Homo sapiens: one gene and its partners. The protein of the gene in region 7 purifies or fractionates together with the protein of the main gene of each other region. This does not show direct contact. Each region holds a gene or a part of one and is shown on either strand. Other genes may lie near its edges. The genes, in order: HEATR1, RABL3, FASTKD5, SUCLG1, PANK4, PFKL and BCL2L14.

Evidence for each region.
Region 1: the proteins of BCL2L14 (region 7) and HEATR1 purify together in Homo sapiens (affinity purification with mass spectrometry, with the first as the bait; one large-scale study listed by BioGRID). This does not show direct contact.
Region 2: the proteins of BCL2L14 (region 7) and RABL3 purify together in Homo sapiens (affinity purification with mass spectrometry; one large-scale study listed by BioGRID and IntAct). This does not show direct contact.
Region 3: the proteins of BCL2L14 (region 7) and FASTKD5 purify together in Homo sapiens (affinity purification with mass spectrometry; one large-scale study listed by BioGRID and IntAct). This does not show direct contact.
Region 4: the proteins of BCL2L14 (region 7) and SUCLG1 purify together in Homo sapiens (affinity purification with mass spectrometry; one large-scale study listed by BioGRID and IntAct). This does not show direct contact.
Region 5: the proteins of BCL2L14 (region 7) and PANK4 purify together in Homo sapiens (affinity purification with mass spectrometry, with the first as the bait; one large-scale study listed by BioGRID). This does not show direct contact.
Region 6: the proteins of BCL2L14 (region 7) and PFKL purify together in Homo sapiens (affinity purification with mass spectrometry; one large-scale study listed by BioGRID and IntAct). This does not show direct contact.

The regions. Positions count from the first base shown.
Region 1 is NC_000001.11:236,601,717-236,605,674, reverse strand, and holds the start of HEATR1 (HEAT repeat-containing protein 1), read left to right. Parts: upstream 1-1,158; 5' UTR 1,159-1,253; intron 1,254-1,547; 5' UTR 1,548-1,579; coding exon 1,580-1,721; intron 1,722-2,298; coding exon 2,299-2,515; intron 2,516-3,958. UniProt on the Homo sapiens protein: Ribosome biogenesis factor; required for recruitment of Myc to nucleoli. Involved in nucleolar processing of pre-18S ribosomal RNA. Required for optimal pre-ribosomal RNA transcription by RNA polymerase I.
Region 2 is NC_000003.12:120,704,517-120,708,016, forward strand, and holds part of RABL3 (rab-like protein 3), read right to left. Parts: intron 1,599-3,500; coding exon 1,484-1,598; intron 1-1,483. UniProt on the Homo sapiens protein: Required for KRAS signaling regulation and modulation of cell proliferation. Regulator of KRAS prenylation, and probably prenylation of other small GTPases. Required for lymphocyte development and function. Not required for myeloid cell development.
Region 3 is NC_000020.11:3,149,866-3,153,365, reverse strand, and holds part of FASTKD5 (FAST kinase domain-containing protein 5, mitochondrial), read left to right. Parts: intron 1-2,498; exon of another isoform or gene 2,499-2,828; intron 2,829-3,500. UniProt on the Homo sapiens protein: Plays an important role in the processing of non-canonical mitochondrial mRNA precursors.
Region 4 is NC_000002.12:84,425,655-84,428,280, reverse strand, and holds part of SUCLG1 (succinate--CoA ligase [ADP/GDP-forming] subunit alpha, mitochondrial precursor), read left to right. Parts: intron 1-2,626. UniProt on the Homo sapiens protein: Succinyl-CoA synthetase functions in the citric acid cycle (TCA), coupling the hydrolysis of succinyl-CoA to the synthesis of either ATP or GTP and thus represents the only step of substrate-level phosphorylation in the TCA.
Region 5 is NC_000001.11:2,523,797-2,527,749, reverse strand, and holds the start of PANK4 (4'-phosphopantetheine phosphatase), read left to right. Parts: upstream 1-1,153; 5' UTR 1,154-1,162; coding exon 1,163-1,286; intron 1,287-1,557; exon of another isoform or gene 1,558-2,149; intron 2,150-3,953. UniProt on the Homo sapiens protein: Phosphatase which shows a preference for 4'-phosphopantetheine and its oxidatively damaged forms (sulfonate or S-sulfonate), providing strong indirect evidence that the phosphatase activity pre-empts damage in the coenzyme A (CoA) pathway.
Region 6 is NC_000021.9:44,306,553-44,310,052, forward strand, and holds part of PFKL (ATP-dependent 6-phosphofructokinase, liver type), read left to right. Parts: intron 1-128; coding exon 129-202; intron 203-707; coding exon of another isoform or gene 708-776; intron 777-3,500. UniProt on the Homo sapiens protein: Catalyzes the phosphorylation of D-fructose 6-phosphate to fructose 1,6-bisphosphate by ATP, the first committing step of glycolysis.
Region 7 is NC_000012.12:12,091,439-12,094,938, reverse strand, and holds part of BCL2L14 (apoptosis facilitator Bcl-2-like protein 14), read right to left. Parts: intron 429-3,500; coding exon of another isoform or gene 348-428; exon of another isoform or gene 276-347; coding exon 9-275; intron 1-8. UniProt on the Homo sapiens protein: Plays a role in apoptosis.

The DNA of each region.
Region 1 (3,958 bases), on a different chromosome or scaffold from region 7:
TGGAAGACGTCAGTTCATCCTAGTTCTAGCGCATACCGGTGTTTTGGAAACAGATTAGCTATATTCATACATAAGGATACTCTTCCGCAACACTATCTGTAGTGAGGCCAAGACCAGTGGTTGCGGGAATCTTCGCAAACAGGCAAGAGACAATTTTTAGGGGCGATGGAAACTGTCATTTTGACTGGGGAGGTCATTACACCTATACATGCATTTGCTAAAAGTCATCAAACTCTTCCACTGACGTGGGTGTAACCATTGTTTGTAAATTATACCTCAACAGGATTCGATTAATTTATTTATTGAGACAGTCTCGCTCTGTGGAGTGCAGTGGTGCAATCTTGGCCCACTGCAACCTCCGACTCCCGGGTTCCAGCGATTCTTCTGTCTCAGCTTTCCTAGTAGCTGGGATTACAGGCGCCCGCCACCACGTCCGGCTAATTCTTTTATTTTTAGTAGAGACGGGGTTTCGCTATGTTGGCCAGGCTGGTCCCGAACTCCTGACCTCAGGTGATCAGCTCGCCTGAGCTTCCCAAAGTGCTCGGATTACAGGCCGCGCCTGACTATGATTCGTTTTGAAAGAAAAAAATATATGCCATTTACCCCTCGGGAATGGAAACATAGAGGAGTGACAAGATCTCCCCCAAGCTCTGGGGCGGTGGAGTCCAGCATTTATAGATCGGTTTGCACTAGGAGCAGAAGCTCCTTTCACGACAATCTCGGCCTCTTCCCACTTTGTAGAGTGAGTAACAAGCTCGGAGAGATGAAATAATTTGGTGGCGTTAACCCGGCCGACAGGCGCCAGCGCCAGGATTTGAACCCAAACCACGTGACTTCACAACCCATAGCTTTCAACACTACGCGGTGCTGCTGGCACCTAGTAAAGGCTGGATCACTACTGAATGAATGATTCTGGCTACGGATCCTTAAAGCCCACAGAAGGCCCATCCAGAGACCGAAAGCTTCAGACACAAGCCGCAGAGCAGACCGCTAAACCGGAGCTACAGAGGCGAAGCTCAGACTTGAGCCTGAGTCCGGCGGGCTGAGGGGCGGGCTTTCGTCTCGGGAGGCGGAGCTGTCTCGTCGCATTCCCGGCAAGCTTGAACCTCTTCACTTGCCGTAGCGCCTGCAGCAGGAAGTTGCTCTACAGCATGCCTTAGGTTTCCGGGTGAGGGTTGGGCTCCTTGGTACCATGTGGGAAGCGCTGTGAAGAGTTGTTGCCTTCCAAGATATACCCAAATTCCCAGTTCCAGGTAAGCGGCACAGAGCCGCTTGATGTGGCTGCGGATGGGGGCGGCATATCGAGGGAGGGTAAGAGTTTTCCGGATATCTGCGGAATCAGGGTTGAAGGAAAGCCTTGGCGCGGTCGCCGCTACTGTAATTAGTTGTTAACGCTGCTGCCATCGTCTTTGCATCTCCGGGGTCCACAAATCTCAGGACACCCGCGTTGTGTGTCCATGACGGTGCTGAGTGCAGAAGAGAATTGTTTGTTTACGAGGCGCCTTATAATTTCGTAGAAACTTATCAAAGTGCTTACGTTTTTTTAGCCCGTGTCATTAAAACTCCGCTGGCGTGAAAGATGACGTCCTTAGCCCAGCAGCTGCAACGACTCGCCCTCCCTCAAAGTGATGCCAGCCTCTTATCTAGAGATGAAGTTGCTTCTTTGTTATTTGACCCTAAGGAAGCGGCCACAATCGACAGGGACACCGCCTTCGCCATTGGTGAGCCATCTTTTAACTTAGAAAAGCTCTTGGAAGCGTTTGTTTTCTGGATGTTACTGTTTTTTTTTTTTCCCCTTGTTTTCTCTTCTGTCCCGTCCTCTTCCTTAGCAGTTTCTAGCATGTTGATGTATATTTTTAAGGGAAAGAGAACATAACAGTCAGGTGCTTGGTGCTTGAAATGTTTATGAGTAGAGGTATCTGGATTTCACAGATGAAGAAACAAAATTAGAGAGGTCAACTAATATGTCAAAGAGAAGAACAGCTAAAAGGGGGATGGAGGCAGTGACTGGGGTGACGGAGAAGTCCTCTCAGAGGACTGGCCTAGTTATTGTAGGGGATATCCAAAAAAAAAAAAAAAAAAGTGTTCCCTGCCACGAAGTACTTTCTGTTCTAGTAGATGAGATAGGATTTACTCTAAAAGTTGAAAACTAGAAATCAGTGTTTGGGACTGTATTATAAATTATATGTACTTAAAGAATTCAGAAACTTCTTAGGGGTAAGTAAAACTGTAAAAGAGGGGTGGGATGAATTTGCTTACGAAGAATTGTTAAATAAACTGGCCTTTTTTGAAATTTAGGATGTACTGGCCTGGAAGAGTTGCTTGGAATTGATCCTTCCTTTGAGCAGTTTGAAGCACCGTTGTTCAGTCAGCTAGCAAAAACCTTGGAGCGAAGTGTTCAGACCAAAGCAGTAAACAAACAGTTGGATGAAAACATTTCATTATTCCTTATTCACTTGTCGCCTTACTTCCTGCTTAAGCCAGCACAGAAGTGTCTGGAGTGGTTGATTCACAGGTAGCTAATAGAATTACAGAAATAACTATGGGTTAATCACTTTGGTCTTGTAAAAAATTAAGTAGTTGAGAACTTATCAAATTAAAGCTGAAAAATTAGGTATATTAAGAGATTGATACAATGTCCATTGTGTGAGATAAGCATGCTCTTCTGCCTTTAAATTCTTTTTTGTTGATAGTGAAAAGTAGAACTACTGGTGATTTTGAGTAAATGGTCTAACCTCATTAGTTTTTTTTTGAGATAGAGTCTTGCTGGGCACTCAGGCTGGAGTGCAATATTGAAATCTTGGCTCACTGCAACCTCTGCCTCCCAGGTTCAAGTGATTCTCCCACCTCAGCCTCCCAAGTAGCTGGGATTACAGGCACCTGCCATAATGCCTGGATGAGTTTTGTGTTTTTGTAGAGATGGAGTTTCACCGTGTTAGCCAGGCTGGTCTTTAACCCCTGACCTCAGGTGATCCACCCGCCTCGGCCTCCCAAAATACTGGGATTACAGGTGTGAGCCACCTCGCCCAGCCTAACCTCGTTAGTTCTGAAGAGCCCATGCTACTTTGCCATTACAGCTTGTTCCTGCACACTTGAGGCAGTGAGTACTAAGCTGCTTTCTTGGCAAAATAACAAGATGGTTGGGGAAGCAGGCAATGTTATCCTCTGAAATACCATTGCTTGAGAAAAACAATGATAGCTAATGTGTTTTTGAGCATTTATACACTAGGCCCTGGTAAGCACTTTATCTGCATTATCTCATTTAATTCTCACAGCATTCCTCTGGTGAGATTATTTGTATTATCCTTGTTTTACAGTTGAGAAAACTGAGGCTTAGAGGGATTAAGTTTCTTGAGTCACACAGCTAGTAAGTGGCAGAGCTAGGATACAGCTGAAGTTTATTTCCAAGGTCTGATCTTTTATCTGCTTTGGGAATTGTCTCAGTAAGCTTAGTTTATTTTCTCACATATTGGTGTCACATCACAGCATACACATTTTTGTTTTATTTATTCTCCCAATATGTATGTCTTTTTTTTTTGAGACAGTCTCGCACTGTCGCCCAGGCTGGAGTGCAGTGGCACGATCTCATCTCACTGCAACCTCCACCTCCCAGGTTCAAGCAATTCTCCTGCCTCAGCCTCCCAAGTAGCTGGGATTACAGGCACATACCACTACGCCCAGTTAATTTTTTGTATTTTTTTTTTTTTAGTAAAGATGGGGTTTCATCACGTTGGCCAGGCTGGTCTCAAACTCCTGACCTCGTGATCCACTCGTCTTAGCCTCCCAAAGTGCTGGTGTGAGCCACCACAGCCACTGCACACGGCTGTCTTTTTATTTTTATTTTATTGAGTGTCAGGATTTCACTCACCCAGGCTGGAGTGCAGTGGTGTGATCGTGGCCCACTCGATCTCCAGGGCTCAAATGATCCTCCGATCTCAGCCACCCAAGTAGCTGGGAT
Region 2 (3,500 bases), on a different chromosome or scaffold from region 7:
AGATATTCACTCTTATCACTCCTAGTTAGTACCCTTTTGGAAGTTGCTGCCAGTGCGAAAAGGCAAGAAATAAGACAACAAGCACACAGATTGAAAAGGAAGAAATAAACCTGTCTATGTAGAGCATCCTAAGGATTGTACTAAAAAACTCTGGTCACAAGATACAGGTCAGCACTCAGAATCAATTCTATTTTTTTTTATACTAGCAATGGAAAATTTGAAACTGAAGTTTAAATATACCATTTATGGCCAGGTATGGTGGCTCATGCCTGTAACCCAGCACTTTGGGAGGCCAAGGCAGGTGGATCACCTGAGGTCAGGAATTCGAGATCAGCCTTGCCAAGATGGTGAAACCCTGTCTCTGCCAAAAATACAAAAATCAGCCAGGTATCCCAGCTACTTGGGAGGCCGAGGCACAATAATTGCTTGAACCTGGGAGACAGAGGTTGCAGTGAACTGAGATCGTGCTACTGCACTCCAGCCTGGCAACAGAGCAAGGCTCAGTCTCAAAACAAAACAAAACAAAACAAAAAAACAATTTACAATAGCTTAAAAAATATTAAATATTTTGGTATAAATCTAATAAAACATGCACAGGATTTGTATGCTGAAAACTACACAATGCTGGTAAGAGAAATAAAAGAAGATCTAAATAAATTTAGAGATATATTGTGTTCATGAACTGGAAGATGCAACAGAATAAAGATGTTAATTCTCTCCAATGTGATCAATAGGTTCAATGCAATTCTAATAAAAATCCAACCAAAATTTTTGTCAATATAGACAAGCTGATTCTAAAAATTCATGTGGAAAAACAAATAAACTATAATAGCTAAACAATTATGAAAAAGAATAAAGTAGAAGGAATCATACTGCTCAATTTTAAGACTATAATTAAGACAGCGTAGTACTGGTGAAGGGACAGACACATAGATCAATGGAACAGAACTAGAGTCCAGAAGTTGACTCATACTAATATGGTCAACTGATTTTTGGCAAAGGAGCAAAAGCAATTCAATGGAGAAAGGATATCTTTTCAATAAATGGTGCTGGAATAGTTAGACATTCATATGCAAACGTTAACCTCAACCAAAACCTCCCATCTCGTACAAAACTAACTTAGATCATAAATCTAAATGCAAACCTATAAAACTTAAAATGTTTTATATAAATGTTTTACTATAAAAATGTAAAACCATAAAATCTGTAGAGGAAAACATAAGAGAAAACCTGCATCATCTAGGATTAGGCAAAGAGTTCTGAGACATGATATCAAAAGCACAATCCATAGAAGAAAAGAAGAGTAATCAGACTTCATCAAAATGAAAACTATTGCTTTGTGAAAGATACTGTTAAAAGGAAAAGATAATCTATACACTGAAAGAAAAATCTTTGCAAATCAAACATTTTACAAAGTGTTATTCAGGGAAGTACATTCCTGTGATTGCTACAATCTTTCAAACCAATTGTGAAATTGGCTCACCCATTTGTCACCAAGACTCCAGTTGGCACCAAATCCCTGTTGAGAGCTTCCAATGACCAACGACGCAAGTTTTGGGAGGACTTCTTATTTGTTAAGTCGTGTACGAAAATAATACCTAAAATAATCAGAGAAAACAATGTTAATCCCTTAACAATTCCTCTTCATTTCACAATTGGCCAAATGAAGCTTAGTAAACAGAAGCATTAGGTTGCTTAATGAATCTAGCATTCTAGTATGACTAACAACTCAGAGACAATTATTTTAAAATTTTCTCTACAAATATTTATAAATAGCCATAAACCTTTCTCTGTCAGTTTTATAACTCTTTATTTTACAAGGGCTGACGAAATCCCATTAAACTTTTAGCAGATCTTTACTTCATTCAACACTTCCTGAGTGCCTACTCCATGCCTGTTCCTACCTGTAGAACCACTTTATTAATCAAGAGAATCAAAACTACTTCAAGTACATATGAAATTATTCATTCAAAAAGTTATGTTGTTTCTTCACTGTACACAGTACTGCCATAGATACCAGTACATACATATATTACTTATACTCACTAAAAGTAATATTAGGTAATGAAAATCTACTAAAATAGTACTGATTTGATACAATTGCTATTCTTTAGCTGACAAAATAGTGTCCTGTAGATCATCTGAGACTAATCTATTCAAATGTCTAATTTTCTAGTTCTTTGAATAATGATTAGTTATGTAAGCTTCCTACCTGTAAGAGATTTAGTTATTAGAGCAAAAGAAATATGCCACTATAAGAGAGTGGGTGAGACATTAAATAGTAAAGAAGTATGGATAGTAGAAAGTACATGCACGGATTTTGATAGATTGAGAAAAATAACAAAATGTAACGAGGCCCAGAAATACACTAAAATACAACTGAAGAGAATCAATTAAAATCCTAGATAGAAAGGAAAATCAGGGAATTAATTATTACAGCAAGATATAGACAAAAGAGGAAAAACTTTGATGCCCACTAGAATTTAGGATATCACCTTATGGTCAAAACACTACAGGTTTCAAACTCCCAACCCTTTTCTATATTACCCAGATTGTGAATAGGACATGAAACCAATGATTCCTCCATCTTCAAGAGGTGGTATGTGTCAATTTGAAAAAGAAAAGCAGAAGAGGTAGAATTAGCTGGCTTCTACAGTTTTTATAGCCATCTGTGTAACTAAAGGGCTTGTACAAGCTATAGCTGACTTGTTCCAGCCAGCTTAGATAAACCTGCATCTCTTCTGGTGTCTGAAACTAATAGAGATCTGACACTTGCCCTAATATCCAATTGTACCCACTCTTCCTTCCTCAATGAGGGGTTTTAATCAGCATCAGTGGCACAGATTTAAAAAAAGGAATAAAGAACCACCATTAAAGACTACAGCTAATATTTATTCAGTACTAATGTACTAAATATTGTGCTTTACATGTGTTATCTAATTTAATTTTCAGAACAGTCCTATGAAGAATTATTATTATCTTTATACACAAGAGAAAACTAAAGTTCAGAGAAGTAGAGTAACTTGTCCTTGGGCACATGGTAAGTCAGAATTTGCACTCAGGTAATCTGACAGTAAAGACTGGTGGTAAGCAGAATAAAATCTCCATTTTAGGGCAAAAAACTGGCATATATTTTCTCCCTTTCCTTTTCCCCAGGCTATAAATATGGCAAAACTATGGGTGAGAATTTTGGACGGGGGAGTAAAAGAATTACAAAGGCCTAAGTTGGCTATTAGATGGACAGGGAAGACTTTACTGAGGATCTTTAGGTAAGACTTTTGAGCTTTTAAGGGCATTTGAGTACCCTTTTCCCCTATTCTTTCTCTTTCATTTGGGCTGAGAGTTATTGCTTTGTAGAACATGTGCTAGAAGAATCAAGGTGGGGCTGAGATGAAAGGAGTCAGGGTGATATGATAATATATCTTAATCTTAAGGGAGAGAAGTAAAGACACTTCATTATTTCCTTCTGAAGGATTACTAGCCTAGGCTATTAGAGAGGG
Region 3 (3,500 bases), on a different chromosome or scaffold from region 7:
AGCCTTGGCACAGAGGAGGCCCTAAGGCATAGCTCTGGTTATTTCCATCTTGGATCTTAGCCTGTGTTTTTACAAATCAAAAAGTGTCACATGAATTCAAAACACTGGAGCTGCACCAAACATTGATGTTCTAGGAGATGGTTCTTTTATTTCCAGACCACGTATAGTAATTTCATTAAGTACTCTTAGGTAGAATTAATTGAAGTAATTTTAATTATTTAATGTTTTAAAATTAATATCATTTATAGAGATATTTGTTAATTCTTGTTTATGTGCTATTTGTTCCACTCAATATTAGTGTGTACTTTTTCATGTGTTGATGCCTGCCACACATTTATCTTGTAAACCAGCCTCCTTCTAGACAGACATTTTCTGTTTTTCGCTTTACTATGGCACAGCTATTTTATTTAAAAAATGGGACCTTTAAATCTATTTTTTTAGGATCTACTTTTTTTTTTTTTTGAGACAGTCTTGCTCTTTCGCCCAGGCTGCAATGCAGTAGTATGATCTCAGCTCACTGCAACCTCTGCCTCCTGGATTCAAGCAATTCTCCTGCCTCAGCCTCTCAAGTAGCTGGGATTACAGGCGCACTACCACGCCCAGCTAATTTTTGTATTTTTAGTAGAGATGGCGTTTCCCCATATTGGCTAGGCTGGTCTTGAACTCCTGTCCTCAAGTGGTCCGCCCACCTTGGCCTCCTGAAGTGCTGGGATTATAGGTGTGAGCCACTGTGCCTGGCCAGGATCTCCTTCCTCAAATGAGATGAAGACTACAGATTTGAACAGTATATGGCTTTAGTTGCACATTGTGGTGGATTAAATTAAATTCCAAATTCGAAAGTAGGTCTTCCTCTTCTTTTTTTTTGAGACAGAGTCTTGCACTATCGCCCGGGCTGCAGTGCAGTGGCGCTATCTCAGCTCACTGCAACCTCTGCCTCCCAGGTTCAAGTGATTCTCCCGCCTCAGCCTCCCGAGTAGCTGGGATTGCAGGTGCCCCAGCTGCAATTGCAGGCGCCCACCACCACGCCTGGCTAATTTTTTGTATTTTTAGTAGAGACAGAGTTTCACTATGTTGGCCAGGCTGGTCTCGAATGCCTGACCTCATAGATCCACCCGCCTCAGCCTCCCAAAGTGCTGGGATTACAGACATGAGTCACTGTGCCCAGCCAAAAATAGGTCTTCTTAAAAGCCCTGTTCTGTCAGCTGGAGAGTTCTGTTACCTGCTATCTCTGTTTTTTTGGTTCTTTTTTTTTTTTTTTTTTTTTTGAGACAGAGTCTCTGTCACCCAGGCTGCAGTGCAGTGGCACCATCTTGGCTCACTGCAACCTCCGCCTCCTGGGTTCAAGCGACTCTTGTGCCCCAGCCCCCCGAGTGGCTGGGATTACACGCTCATGCCACCACACCTGGCTAATTTTTGTATTTGTAGTAGAGATAGGGTTTCACCATGATGGCCAGGCTGGTCTCGAACTCCTGACCTCAAGTGATCTGCCTGCCTTGGCCTCTCAAAGTGCTGGAATTACAGGCATGAGCCACCACGCCTGGCCATCCTGCTGTCTCTTTTGTTCCCACCTTTCCTGTGCTGTAGTATTAATTGGATTTCCTAATGACTATTTTGAGGACTGTAATCTTCAATTATCATCTAAATATTAAAGAAAAACATTATTTTAGTACTATTTTTCTATAGTTTTTCCAATTTTAATTAAAATTTTTTATTTTTTTAATTTATTTTTTATTTTATTTTATTTTTTAGACAGTCTTGCTGTGTTGTTCAGGCTGGTCTCAAACTCCTGGCCTCAAGCAATCCTTCTGCCTCAGCTTCCCAAAGTGTTGGGATTATAGGCGTGGCCAAGTTTTTCTAATTTTTAAAAAGCTGGCTATCTGCATTTATAGAAATAGTGTGTAGCAGAGATCAGCAGACTTTTTATGTAATAGACCAAACACTAAATATGCTTTGCAGGCCATACAATCTGCCACAGTTACACAGTTCTGCTCTTGTAGCAGGAAAGCAGACATAGACAATATATAATGAATGGCCTAGCTATGTTCTGAAAAAACCTTGTTTACAAAAACATGTGAAGAGCTAGATTTGGGCCCCAGGACATAGTCTGCTCACCCTTGATCTGAACCACAGATTGAAATTTGGTGGGCAGAATGGTCCACAGGTGGTCAGGCATGGTGGCTGATGCCTGTAATACTAGCACTTCAGGAGGCCAGGGTAGGAGGATCACTTGAGCCCAGGAGTTTGAGACCAGCCTTGGCAACATTGTGAGACTCCATCTCCACACACACACACACACAAACACACACACAAACACACACTAACTGGGTTTGGTGGTGTGCACCTGTAGTTTTTGCTACTTCAAGAGGCTGAGGCTGAAGTGGGAGGATTGCTTGAAGTGGGAGGTCAAAGCTGCAGTTATCATGCCACTATACTCCAACCTGGGTGACAGAGTGAGACTGTCTCAAAAAAGAAAAAAAGAATGGTCCACAAGCCACAGTAAAGAACCAAGTGTATAAAAATTTAATGTGAGAGAATTCTGCTCTGATTCACACAGAAATTCATACATATGTTCCTGCCATCTAGAGAAGCCTGTGTAGCTGGGCTACTGGAACAGAGCCACTGACCTGCCCTGCTGTTCTTTGATGAACTAAATGATGATGTGCTATGGGCTCTGGAAGAAAGTGGCTGACAGCAGAGTTAGGCAGGCATTTCAGAAAGTCATTCTGGCACCCTTGGAACTTTTATGGAGTTTTCTGCAGCAACAGCCCTGTCTGGTACATCAGTTGACAACTCAGGTCTCCTTGGGTCTTGCTTGTCAGGCTTTGGCACTTAAGTGGAAAGAAAAAGAATAAGCATTAAGGAAAGCGAGAGCACAGCAGAATCAATTTCATAGTCTCTCATGGTTTCTGCCATGGGAGAAAAATGGGCATTATACTGCTCACAGGCAGAATAAAGACTCACTGGAAACATTGCTAAGCTGCCTTCTCCAGAAGATGTCAGCGGGGCAGTTGCGTCAATTGGCGTTCCCTGAACCCTGAGCCCAGCTTTGGGGTACTCTTTGCTTCCCACCCGTGAAGTGACAGTGAGCAGACCCTCAACCTTCTGCTTTCTCCCACCAAAATGAGTGAGTTTTTTAGTATACTTTCTAATAACACCATTACTCTGTGACTACTCTCTAATAGTGACTCAAATTCTGTTATAAGCTTCCTGAAGAGGAGAGTAGGCATCTTCTAAAAAGTAAAAGAACAGCATTAGAATGACAGAATTTTGGAATTAACAGTTTTGCGCTATAAGAACAGGGAGGGTTATCGTAGGTATAACTAATTAAATCTTTTTTTTTTTTTTTTGAGATGGAGTCTCACTTTTTCGCCTAGGCTGGAGTGCAGTGGCACGGTCTTGGCTCACCGCAACCTCTGCCTCCTGGGTTCAAGGGATTCTCCTGCCTCAGCCTCCTGAGTAGCTGGGATTACAGGTGTGTGCTGCCACACCTGGGTAATTTT
Region 4 (2,626 bases), on a different chromosome or scaffold from region 7:
ACAGGGTCACTGATGAGATGATCACCTATGAGGGCATTTGTGGGGAGGGTGGGAGGGAGAGATAGAAAAGGCTTATGGGGAAGAGGAAGCTAGAGTCAGATCTTAAAAGTTAAGTAGGAGTTTGCCAAGCATCCAAGGAGGGTGGAGAGCATTCTCAGCAAAGGCACAGAGCTAGAGCATTCTGGGGTTACTGGAAGATAAGGAGAAAGGGAGGAAAGGTGGCAGATGAGGCAGGAGTAAGCAGTGTCTGACCATGTAGCTCCTTGCATGCTGCATCTTAGTGGGAATCAGGGCAGTCAGTCGAACCAGAGTAGCAGTCATTCACTGCCATGTACTACTCACAGTGCAAAGAAAAAAAAAGCCAGTTTCACTTATGAGTGTCCTTGATGAAGCAATGCAAATTATTAATTTTATTAAATTATGACCCTGGAGTCAGTATTTTGTGATAAAATGGGAAGTAAAGCATTGTCACAATTGAGTTGTGAGCTGAACTAGCTGCCCTTTTCATGGGACACCAATTTTACTTGAAAGAATGACTGGCAGACGAACTGGTAATTCAGACAGATCTCTTCTCAATAATGAACAAAGTAAACCTGCTGTGTCAAGGGAAACAGTTGATAGTATTTGTTGCTAATAATAACATTTGAACTTTCAAGTGAATATTTAAAATTTTAGAAAATTTGCATCTGCAACTGTGAGCTTGACAGCTTCCTCCTACCTAGAGGCTTTTCTAATGAGCTTGATGGTGATACTGATAACTGATTTGTTGTTATTAAATGATGAAACATGTCAGCATTTGGAAGATCTGCATAACTCAGTGAACCCATACATATTTCCTAACTGAGGAATGCATGTTACAAAATCACTGTGGTTAAAAGATCACTCAAAGTGCAAGACAGATTAATGAGTTTTAAATTAACAAGGGACAGAAAGTTCACTGCTATGGTTTCAGATTCCAACATTGCACCTAACCTGTAAGAAATTACCACTTGAGAGATTTGGTTAGTATCAAAGAAGAATACTCCCAATTATCTGTAAGGCAGTCATTTAAAATACTTCTGCCTTTTCCAGTTACATATCTGTGTGAGGCTGGATTTTCCTTTTATACTTCAGCTTAAATAACACACTACAACAGATTGAATGCAAAAGCATTTATCAGAATCCATTTGTCTTTCATTAAGTTAAACATTCAAGAGTTGAAAATATAAGTGGTAAAATAACGCAACTCTTCTCACTAGAATGGTTTTTAAAGTGTTAAAATGTTATTTTTAAGTGAATTAACAAATATTTATAAAATTTGTTTTAATTTCTAATATACTAAATATCATTAGATATAATACATATCAACAAAAGCTCTTTGAGATCGTCAATAATTCTTTTAAGTATAAGGGATCCCTAGACCAAATGATCTGAGAACTGCTGGTCTAGGGGAAGATGATGGTACCTAAGTGAAAGCTCTCAGGTTCCACTTGTGCTCAAGTTCTGCCTTTTCAGTCCTCTCTGTTTTACCTGGTTCCTTATTATCTCTGGACTTCTGTTATGAACATGATATTACCATTAATTATGAAACTTAATCATATATTCATATATTAGTTTATGGTATCTTTTTTTTTTTAAGACAGAGTCTTGCTCTGTCGCCAGGCTGGAGTGCGGTGGCATGATCTCAGCTCACTGCAACCTCCGCCTCCCGGGTTCAAGCGATTCTCCTGCCTCAGCCTCCCGAGTAGCTGGGACTACAGGCGCGAGCCACCATGCCCAGCTAATTTTTGTATTTTTAGTAGAGATGGGGTTTCACCATGTTGGCCAGGATGGTCTCGATCTCTTGACCTCGTGATCTGCCCGCCTCGGCCTCCCAAAATGCTGGGATTACAGGCCTGAGCCACCATGCCTGGCCTATGGTATCTCTTAATGGATTGAGGTATATACATATTTTATATTATTTCTTCAACTACTTTGCATGTCTAGAGTACAGACATTTTTATATTTTCTTTTTTTTTTTTTTTAAACCTCAGAATCTAGTATATAGAGATTGTACATTAGAATGGATTTTTGCTGAATAAAACCAATTCTGATCTTCCCTCTTAGACACAGAATTCCAGAGTGGAAAGGGCTTTTGGGCATCAATCCAGTTTGGCCATTTCATTTCATAGATGAGGAAGCAGAAGTCTGGTTCTCAAGAAGCCTTGTCCAAGGTCGTGCAGCTTTTGTTACTAGAAAATTAAGTCCTAGGTCCTTTCCAGTATACTTCCCACCTCATCTTTTTCTTTTAGCACATTTATTAAGGGTGAACTAATAATGAATTAAGGCATAATATTAGGTTGAAGTAAAGCAACCCAGTCTTGTGTCTTAAATTATTATTATCGCAAATCATATTTTCCAGTATGCTCTTTTACTTTTCAAATGATAGCGTCATGTGTATTTGTGAAGTGGAAGTTTTATATTGAACAGATACGGACATTGGCACAGTGTTGTATTCCTGAGTTTGTATGGAAAGTTAACTCAAAGGAGAATGCAGTGGTTTCAATCATGGTTTAATATTTGTGTTGGTTTTCCTAAGATGAATGGTGGGCTTTCCCCTGCCCAAGCCATTTACCATTTACCAGCAGAGTCATGAATTTGAGGTCCC
Region 5 (3,953 bases), on a different chromosome or scaffold from region 7:
ATGGCACACCATGCTGCCAGGGGTCTGAGCTGCCAGAGGTCTAAGCCGCCTGGGGTGTGCTCCACTCTTCCACCCAGGCCTCCCTGGGGCAGGCTCCCCCTCCAGAGCCACACACCCACCCCCTTGGAAGACACAGGCAAGGATGCCTCCTCCCTGAAGGCTTGCCCTGCGCACACAGATGCATTATCCCTGGAGTTTGTGCCGCCCCACAGGCCTGTGCTCCCAGGAGCCCTGCCAGGCAGCTGGTGGCATTCTCCACGTGCAGACAGAGGCTGAGGGCCAGAGACATGCAGTAATGACCCCGGGTTACCCGGGAGGGGCTGATCTGTCTGCTTCCAACACTGGGCTTTTTCCCAAGGCGCCCAGAGCCTCTGGAGAAGACGCATCTCTTCATGCCAGCAGGGCTTCCCAGCCACTCACCCTGGAACCCTGGCCTGCCCCACCTATACCCCTGTCCTGGCTCCAGCTGCTTCCAAGGCTTGTTCCTGCAGCCTCCCAGGCACCTGTCTTGCCCACAGGCAGCCTGCCTGGCTTCCCCCGACCACAGCACTTTCCACGGATCGCCATTACAGCACACATCTTCCCTACCCGCAGGTGCATGCCAGGCTGGGGCTCCTCCCAGGTGGGGCAGGGTTCCCCACTCCTCTGGTTTGCATGGGACTTTTAACATTGAAAGTCCCACGCCCCTGGGAAGCCAGGATTGAGTCACCCTAGCAAAGAGCGCATCACATTCGCCCTGGCGTGCAGGGCCAAGCTTACAGCAGGCACTCGCTGAAGGGCAGGGCTCTCTGACAGTCTGCAGACCCACGTGCCCCCTTAGAAGCAGGTGGGCGGCCTCTGCGGCCTCCCTCAGCAGGGCTCAGAGCACTTGAGTTAAGCCTGTGGACAGCGCGGTAAAAGAACATCAGTCCAGATGTTCTGTGCTGATGCGCGATCTCTGGAGGATAACCGCCCGCCCGCCCGCAGCCCCGGGCCTCTCGGACCCCTGCCCAGCACTGGCCCTAGCTCGCCCTGTAGCGGCCGAGACCTCAGAGGCCGGGGGTGGGGGAGGGAAGGGGCGGGGCCGGCGCCTCATTAACATAATCTATGCGAGGGGGCGTTTGGCAGTCAAATATATGCGCATATATCTCCATGGCTGATGAGCTGGCCGGGCACTTTCAAAATGGCGGAGTGTGGAGCGAGCGGCAGCGGGAGCAGCGGGGACAGTCTGGACAAGAGCATCACGCTGCCCCCCGACGAGATCTTCCGCAACCTGGAGAACGCCAAGCGCTTCGCCATCGACATAGGTAGCCGCAGGCCGGGCGCCGGGCGCGGGCTGCGGGGGCGGGCGGGGCGCCGGCGGTGGGCCGGCGAGCGGGGGCGGCGGGAAGGACGAAGGGCGGGGGCGCGGGCCTCGCGCACAGCCTCACGGGCCTTGTAGTCCGCGGGCCCGCGCACAGCCTCACGGGCCTTGTAGTCCGCAGGGTCGCTGATGCGCGGGCTCGGGGCGACGGCCGGACTACAGCTACCGGCAGGCGCCGCAGGGACCAGAGCGGGGCCTGCCGGGCCTGGTAGTTCGCGCGGCCGTCCTGGGTGGCTGGGGGCCGGGGTCCAGCGTTACCCGCCGCGAGGTGGGAGGGTCGGCGGAATTTTATGTCTTCGGCCACATCGGCATCTGGGCGCCCCGGCTCCGCCGCTTGGCTGGTGGCTGGCCTGAGATTTGGGGTCCTTAGTTCTGGTCGAGACGAGGACGAGCTCGGCGGGAAGCCCTTGGCAGAGTGGCCCCGAAAAGGCCGCGCGTTCCCGCGGCGTGGCCAGCTGTGGCCCGCGGGCCGGACAGTCCGTGCACAGGCCCCGCTCTCTGGAGAGTGGACGCCGGGCGTGAGTTCAGGCGGCCGTGGACGTGGGACCTGGGAACTCGTGCCTCTGGTTTAAAAGCCACCCGTGCCTTCCGTGGCCTTTAAGGCGGCCTGCACTTCTGCCCTGGCCTCTCCAGGGTCCGCTGCAGACCCTCCTGCCTGATGGCTGTGCTCTCAGTAATGACGGCGGGCCAGGCTCTGTTCTAGACCTTTTTCCCACGCTCCTGACTCCCGGACACCTCCCAGCCACCTCTAGGGGAGGAACGCGAATTACTCCCTTTTCGCAGATGAGGATACCAAGCCCCAGAAAGGTGAACTAATTTGCCCAGGGTCATCGGGCTAGAAAGTGGCAGAACCAGGATTTGAACCAGCCACTCCCTGCTCTCCTACTCTGCCCATGTTTCAGGCATGAGGGCTTCCTGGGGGCAGCTTCACCTGGAGAAACCCCCCTTGAATAGCCGCTGCGGCTTCACATACCTCTCCCTCTTAGCACTCATCTCGGTCGTAGGCTGAGTCTGCTTGTGTGTGAATCCCACAAGAGCAGCGGTGTGTCTTGTAGCCCCAGCCCCCGAAAAGGATGCCCAACCTGTCTTTGCCGCCCAGTAAATACTGGGATGAATGGGCCTGCCGCTGACTGCTTCCCACCTCCCTGGAAAAGCTGGGACTCAGAGAGACCCAGGCCATTCCCTCTGAGCTGTGTGCTCCTGGTGCATCTGACATGTTTGCTGCTGTGGTGTCCTCGGGGTTGTTGGTGTCATCATCTCTCTGAGATGTCCAGCCAGGGAAGGGTGTCCTCTAGGGAAGTGGGGGGCGATGAGAATGGAAGTAGCTATAGGTCCTGGCTCCCACCTTTCAGTGAGCTTATGGGAGGCAATGCTTCTTAGGGGGTGTGGCCTGGTGCCAGGTATGAGAACGTGTGAGTAGCATCTTTAGGGACCGCTGATAGGACTTGGGACTGACTGGTTATTGGGCTGCAGGTGCTGAGCTTGCAGCCCTAGCCTAGGGGATTGTCTACCGCAGGCCTCACCAGAGGCTCCCCAGCCATGCTTCCCAGCCTTCTGAGACCTTGAGGCCCGGTAGAGCGTGTGCTCTGCAAGGTTCTGCTGCCCTTACACTGGGGGATTCTGTTACTGGAAGCAAGTCGGGATTAAATGTTTCTGAAATGCAATTGCAGTTGACCTGCATAAGTCACTTGGGGAATGGCCAGGAGAACAGGGCTCACCGTGGATGTTCTGTGTGGCCCCGAGAGGCCAGTGAAGCCGCAGAGCTGGGGCTGTCCAGGAAGGGCTGTCGCAGCCCTAGAGGGCCCTGGAGTACCAGCCTGTTCTCCAGGCTGAGCCCAGGGGGTTTCTTGGTAGAAGGATACTCTAAGAGGTCTGTTTAGTGCTGGTATTTATTTCCCCTCTTCAAAGTTTCTCCCTGCGTCTGGGTCCTGTGTCTCTGGTTCTTAAGAGGACCTGTTGACTGATACTGAGAGACCTTTTGTTTGTTACTCCTGACCGAGCTGCTGGGAGGCCACGCTCAGGGTGGGGTGTCTTCAACCCAGGAACCCTCAAAGCCAAAGTGCTTGTCAACAGTGTTGTTTAAAAGCAGGCTTCTCCCATTTCCTCTTCCCTTGCCTGTGTCTGGATCTAGGAAAGCTCACCTGCCCTGTGTTCTGGCAAGCTGTTTTCCTCTCGATGGGACGCTGATGTCTGCTGAGCAGATTCACCTCTTTGAAAGCAGCAGGGACGTTGTATTTCTCAAAACATACTGCAGCTTCGATCTGATTTTAGGTTTCTGCGGGCTGTGGGGAGGGTTCCTCAGAGGCAGGTGAGACAGGAAGGGGCCACGGGGCGGTGGTGTCTGCTTGGCTGTCCTGCCCTCCATTGGTGCCCAAAGAGGAAACACAGGACCAGAGAGAATGGCAGAGGGGATGGGGCCTGTGGGACAGGGAGAACTAGAAGGCCATGGCTCAGATGTGAAGAGCACAGGTGACCAAACCTCTGGGAAGCCCCCTTCCCCCACCAGCTGTTGGCCTCAGGGCCGAGCGCGGGCAGCCCGGAGAGCCGCCAGGAGGCACTCCTGTCACTGCCTTGCCAGGCGCGGTTTGCTGTGATTCCGAGGGGTCCCTGA
Region 6 (3,500 bases), on a different chromosome or scaffold from region 7:
CCACCACCCGCCCTCTGAGATGGACAGGGTGTCCAGGCCTCCCCTACCCCCTGTCCTCTGAGATGGGGAGGGTGTCCAGGGCCTTGCTTCTCAGCGTGGGACTGACAGGTTTGCCCTGACCTCCACAGGCATGAACGCTGCTGTCCGGGCTGTGACGCGCATGGGCATTTATGTGGGTGCCAAAGTCTTCCTCATCTACGAGGTAAGGCCAAGGTGGGCTGTGTGTGTGCAGGGAGTGGGGACCTCCTGAGGCGCATGCCGAGGTGTGTTCTGTGTGGGTCACACTGGGAGACGGGGTGGTCCTGGCCTGGAGGAGCTGATGGGTATGTGGTCTTGGGGAGTGTGAGGGGGAGCTTGGGGCCAGGCCAAAGGCATCTGCAGAAAGAAGACCTACTGCCTTGGGACTCAGCCCGGCTGGAGGCTCAGAGGCTGCAGAGCACGGGCCTGGGGGCAGGGAAGGAGCTGGGTGGACAAGGAGTCGAGGCCCTGCCTACAGTGATCGCTGACGGGCCAGGCCCCACCCACCACACCCCTGCCTGGTGTCCCCCAGCCTGGCCCTTGTCCCGCCCCGAGGCCTCTGTGAGTGGGGGCCAGGGACCTCACCGCCTCTGCCCTTGTCCTCCCCAGCCTCCTGCCTCACCACCCAGACCCGGGGGGCAGCCGCTGGCAGCAGCTCTGCTGTGTCTATGTTCATTGTGTCCCCGCAGGAGCAGCGGATGCCCTACTGCCTCAGCCCCAGTCCCCGTGGGAGATTTGGGGCTCGCCCTCCGTCCTGGGTATTTACACACCCACACTTGCGCTCACACATGTGCACACACAGGCGCATTCACACACTTGGGCCACACCACGCACTCACAGGCTGCATTCTTGCCTTGTCAGGTGGTTTTCCACATTCCACAAGACAAGGTCTTTTGTTATTTTGTTGCCACTTTTTATGTAATATGTAGCTGTTTATATAAAATGTAGCAACCCCAGCTCTGCAGCCCCAGGCACTCAGCCCCACCCCCCTCACTGCTCACTGCTCGCTGCTGACCACTCACCGCCCTGGGTCTCAGTTCCCCCATCTTGGCCCCAGGGAACAGCAGCCTGTCCAGCCCTCCCTCTGCAGGACTGTGTGAATGAATGAGTGAGTGGGCAGTCTGTGCTGGCCCGTCCTCTCCCTGTGGCCAGGCTGGGGCCCTGCCAGTATTGGATTAGGAAGCAGGTCTCAGAGCCCTGGGGAGCTGGGTGTGGGGGCCTCTCTAGGCAGGCTGGGCTGTGTCCGTACAAACCCCTCCTGCCACCTGCTCGACCTTCAGTTTCTTCTTCTAAGTGGCAAAGGGGAGAAATTAGGGTTTTCCGGAACCCCCACACATTTGTGGTTGGGAAAGACTCCTGTGGCAAAAGACAGAAAACAGGTTCATCGGTGCAGGGCGTGTCCTGGAAAAGGGGAGAAGAGGCACTTTGCCGTGCCTAGAGTCCTGGCTTCTGCAGAGCCCAGCAGAGACCAGTGCACATGGAGAAGCCGAGGGGTACAGGGACGCAGCGTGAGGCCCTCGGAGGTGGGGGAATGCAGGAGGGTGAGTTTATGGGAAAAAGAATGAAGTGGGTGGGCGCGGGTCCTGGGGCTGTCTCTGGGTCCTGAGGGCTGTGAGGGGCATTTACATCCTGTCCAGGCGGTAACAGGAGGAGCCTTAGTCTTGGGATGCTGTGTGCTGCTTTCCTCTCAAAGGGAGGCAAGGCTGAGAGCTTCCCTGAATCTGCTGCCTAGTGGGCTTTAGCTCAGAAACATCCACATCTAAGAGGCAGATTTTGAGATGAGACATTCTGATATAGCGGCCCAGGGAAGACTTCCCCTCCGTCCCATGAAGGTTCTTGGAAGAATCCACTTGCGAAAAGCGGATTAATAGGGCAGAGGTGCTGGCATTCATTGTGAATAGGCATGGAGAGGTAGGGCGAAGATGCTGACCTGCCCTCCTCCCAGGGAAAGGGGCATGGGCAGCCTGGATGATTCTAGGGGGGTAGGAATTTTTTTTTTTTTTTTTTTTGAGACAGAGTCTCATTCTGTTGCCCAGGCTGGAGCGCAGTGGCACAATCTTGGCTCGCTGCAACCTCTGCCTCCCAGGTTCAAGCAATTTTCCTGCCTCAGCCTCCTGAGTAGCTGGGATTACAGGCACCCACCACCACGCCCAGCTGTTTTTTGTATTTTTAGTAGAGACGGGGTTTCACCATGTTGGCCAGCCTGGTCTCGAACTCCTGGCCTCTGGTGATCCACCCGCCTCTGCTTCCCAAAGTGCTGGGATTACAGGCGCGAGCCACTGTGCACGGCCATGAATGGTTTTTAGGGGATTCAATGGGCTTGGACAGCATCTGTTAGCCCTGGTGACCACCTGCCCAAGTGTGTTGGCAGACACAGGTCTTTCTTCCTACGATGACCTCAGTGCATGGAAACTCAGGGAGGGGACTGGCCGTCACTGTTCCTTTCTCCAGCAGCTATGGGCTTTAGGCAGATTCGGGGGCTTCAGGGAGCAGCTGCATCCTGAGCTTGGAGGAGGCAGAGGGTCGAGAGGCAGAAGGGGGAGGTCAGGGAGACCTGCGGCTGCGTCAGTTCACATCAGACTGCATTTTGGGTTTCTGAGCCCCCAGCGCTGGCTTCCTTCAGCAGGGAGACCGATCCCTTCTCCTTGGGGCTATTGTTAGGGCAGAAAGGGAGGGTGGCCTTGGAGGTGAAAACCCTTCTCAGTTCTGACACAAAGGAGGGCTCAGAACAGGCTACTCTTATCCCCCCAGGCAGAGCCCACAGCATAGCAGGGAGGGCCCTGAGCCTGGGTCCAGGCCTGCAGGGGTGAGAGGAGGGGGCGGGGCTAGAGGGGAAGGAGGGGAAGGTGAGCTGGGCCTAGGAGGACAGAGACGGAAACAGAGTGGGTAGAGGGGGGCAAACAGCTTCTAGAAGATTCCAAGGGTAGGAGGAGGTTGTGTCTGTGAGACTGATTCCAGCAGAACTGAGCCACTGGCCTTGTGGGGTCTCTGGGGACTGCTGGGCTGGCCATACCTGCCTGCCCCTCCGCCCAGTGGGGCAGGGGCCTGGCTGGCGCCTGGGCTCTGTATTGGATCCTGAGTTTTGCAGACAGACCTGTGTTTGGTGGCCTCCTGCTCAGGTGGGGCTGTGGGTTTGGGATCATTTTCCTGTTTTCCTTGTTCCTAGCTCAGGGCTGGTACAACCAGAGGGGGCCAGGCTGGCCTGGCCTGAGCCGGAGGAAGTAGCTCTGTGGTCCCTCAGATCAGCCCCTGAGATGGGGCAGGGGCACCTGTCCCCCAGCCCAGCTGGTGGGGAAGGGAGGCTGTCAGGCTAGAAGCCCGCCATGGCCAGAGTGGGGATGTTCATGCGCCCCGCAGCGCGCACTATCCCTTGACCCCCTGCCTGCTTGAGGCACTTGCCCTCCTGGCCCCCAGGGCCCTGACACCTGGTTGGGGAGAAGGCGGAGGGAGGAGCAGAAGCCCACAGCTGAGCTGGCATCCGC
Region 7 (3,500 bases):
ACGCTTACCCATCCACCGTGCTGCTGGATCCATGGCGAGAAGTTCTCTTTCAGGTACTTGGTGCCAAAGCCCAGGACCCTGTTCATCGGGTGGTTGTCAATAGCTGTGAGCTTGGCCGTGACGTCTATTACAAGGGCAGCCTTAAAGCCCTGAGCTTTGACCTCTGATTCTCCCCTGGGGTCCACACCCATTAGGACCTGGTCTGTGATGGTCTTGAAAACAGAGTAGGACAGCCCATCCTGGAAGTGGCCCATCAAAGCCTTATCTTTCTTCAGCTGTGTACAAAAGAATAAGCACTCAGTACAGTAGCTTGGCTCCACGAGGCAGACAGAAGTTCATTCTTTAGCTCAAATGCAGGCCATCAAACCATCCTGTGGAAAACCCTGGATGCTGGTGTCAACCAAGGGAATGGGGATGAAGGCAGTGTCCTGCAGAACCAGAATGGGCATGTACTGCTCGGTGAATTCATTTCATCAGCACAAATACATGTATAAAATGGAACAGTCAGTTCATTTGACATTTAACAAATATTTCCTGAGCACTTATAATGGGCAGGTAGTATGGATGACTGAGATGCGGGTCCTCACTCAAAGGGCTCACAGTCTAGTGGGAATTGCAGAAAAATGTGATGTCCTTTGCTAGAAGTAGTGTAAGGGACAGGATCTGAAGCTTAGGAATCACTGTCTTGGCTCAAACCCCTGGGTCCACCTCTTACTTAGCTATGCAATCTTGGGGAAATTAACCTCTCAGATTCAGTTTGTCATCTCTAAACTAGGATGGTGATAGTATTGATACTATAGGGTAATTGTTTTCTTTCTTTTTTTTTTTTTTAAGACAGGGTTTCACTCCCATTGCCCAGGCTGGAGTGCAGTGGTGTGGTCTCAGCTCACTGCAACCTCTGCCTCCTGGGCTCAAGTGATTCTCTTGCCTCAGCCTCCCAAGTAGATGGGACTACAGGTGCATGCCACCACACCTGGCTAATTTTTTTCTATTTTTTTGTAGAGATAGAGTTTCGCCATGTTGCCCACTCCTGGGCTTAAGCGATCCACCCACCTCAGCCTCCCCAAAGTGTTGGGATTACAGGCATGAGTCCCTGCACCCAGTCTTCATTTTCTTTTCTTTTCTTTCTTTCTTTTTTTTTTTTCTGAGATGGAGTCTCACTCTCTTGCCCAGACTGGAGTGCAGAGGCGCGATCTCAGCTCACTGCAACCTCCGCCTCCCAGGTTCAAGCAACTCTCCTGTCTCAGCCTCCCAAGTAGCTGGGATTACTGGCACACACCACCACACCCGGCTAATTTTTGTATTTTTAGTAGAGACAGGGTTTCATCATGTTGGTAAGGCTGGTCTTGAACTCCTAACCTTAGGTGATCCACCTGCCTCGGCCTCCCAAAGTGCTGGGATTACAGGTGTGGGCCACTGTGCCCGTACCCAGCCTTCATTTTCTTAAGAAACTTTTATTATTATTGTTTTTTAGGGACAAGGCTTACTATATTGCCCAGGCTGGTCTCAAACTCCTGGCCTCAAGCGATCCTCCCACCTCGGCCTCCCCAGGAGCTGGGATTACAAGTGTGAGCCACTGTGCTTGGCCCTATACTATAGGGTAGTTGAACACTTTATAGTGCTGGACATAGAAGAGGTGCTTTGGAAATGCGAGTCATTTTTCAGGATGCTACGGGAGCATGGAGGTCAGGGAAGACTCCCTTGCATGCAATGTTCACTTAAAAAAACTCCAATTCATTGATTTCTTTCCCATTATTCTACCCTATTGATTTTACCTCCCGGCCTTCCCTTGAACCTGGTATCTCTCTGCTTTACCTCCTTTGAACTACCACGCCTTTAAAACAAAATCAATGCTGCCTCTTCTGCTTTTGAAAAATCAGGGCTCATATCAAAAAGCTATATATCATCTTCATTTAAAGCATTCTTGCAATGTCTGTTAATATGCTGGTTGTCATGTGAAAACGGAAATTTCTGAGTGAGCAGGGACAAAATATTTATTTGAAAATCCTCTAGTTCTGTCCTAGAGGAATGATAAGCCAAGCGGGTTTTCAACAAATATTGTTTCTAAAAGGGATATCTGGGGGATGAGTCAGATGCGATTGGGAGATTTTGGCAGACCTGTCTTTTCCCTGAACCACGCCCACCCCCACCGTCCAGGCCCCGTCTGGGTTGTGACTCTGCAGGAGGCATGGCCAGCCTCCTCCATAACAGGGAACAGACTCCTCTTCATCAGTTTCCCAATGGAGGAGGCCAGGCTCAAAACCCTAGCAGGCAGCCAAGTGGGGACTGTGCCAGAACAGTAAAAGAATCAAACGCCACAAAGACAGGGCTTCCACTGGCACCTCCTCACCCCTCCCCTGCCTGTCCCTCTCGGGTGCACCTGGCTCTTTGGCCTCTCCTGGAGGTGTAGGATGGGCCTTCGGGCTGTGTGTGCTCTTGGGACCAGCGGCTCTGCAGATCCCCTGCAGCCACACACACGGCACTCTGCAGTGGGAGCTTGGCACCCGCCCAGCACAAGGTCACACCTACCATGTGTCTCTAGCAGAGCTCCCTACTGGGGAAGCATGTAAAGGAAATAACAACCAAGGCTTTGCCATAAGCAATGTAAAATGTCCAAACTCCTTAAGAGAGAGCACCAGGCAAAGTGAGGTTTTTGAAAGTGGTAATTTGTGGGGGTGAAAATGAAACCATCGCTCTTCATAACCTGAGATCGGTGGCCTTCGTCCCACCTCCAGCACCCCCACTCCGCCTTTCCCACCTCCCTGACCAATGACCACAAGTCCCTGCTTAGGGAAGCTGGGAAGGAGGTTGCCGTGAGAGCCACAGAAACTCTGAGTTGTAAAGAGCCCTTGAGGTTGTCTAAAGGACCCCTCGGAGTTCTGTGCTGAAATGCTAACTGGTATTGGCACCTACTTGCAATTCTTCCCGTGACAGGAAGATCATTCTCTCACAAGGCACCCGTTGACTCTCATGGGCAGCCTGGAATGCCTATTCTCCAGGAATGGAGGTTCATTCTTACCATAAGGAGAAATCAATCACCCCATACTAGGCATAATTTGTGTATCCATGACACTAGCTCTGGAGAAATGCAGGGGTGCCCTTAAATCATGATCCTGTTCCATCTCTTGCTTCCTCTGCACCCCTCTCCACCCTCTACTTGTGGTCCCAAAGCTCACACACCCCGTTCTCTTTTCTTTAACCTAATATCCCTGGTTTTCTCGCTGTTTCTCATTCTGTCCCATCTCCCAGGTGCTTCGCCCTCTGGGTCACCAGCCTCTGGGCACACTTTTGACAAAGCTATAGACAGGAGCTGTTTGTCTTCCTGCAGAACCTCCCATCCCCACCCCCAGGGTCTGACTCCCTCCCCACAGATTCTGGAAAAACAAGGGTCTATGTCTGCAAGCCAGCCCCTGATTGACAGATTCTAGAGACTACTCAGTCGTCTGTGGGTTATGGACCCAGGAGGCATAGAGAAGCCCTTTTGACTCTGTTGAAGGTTT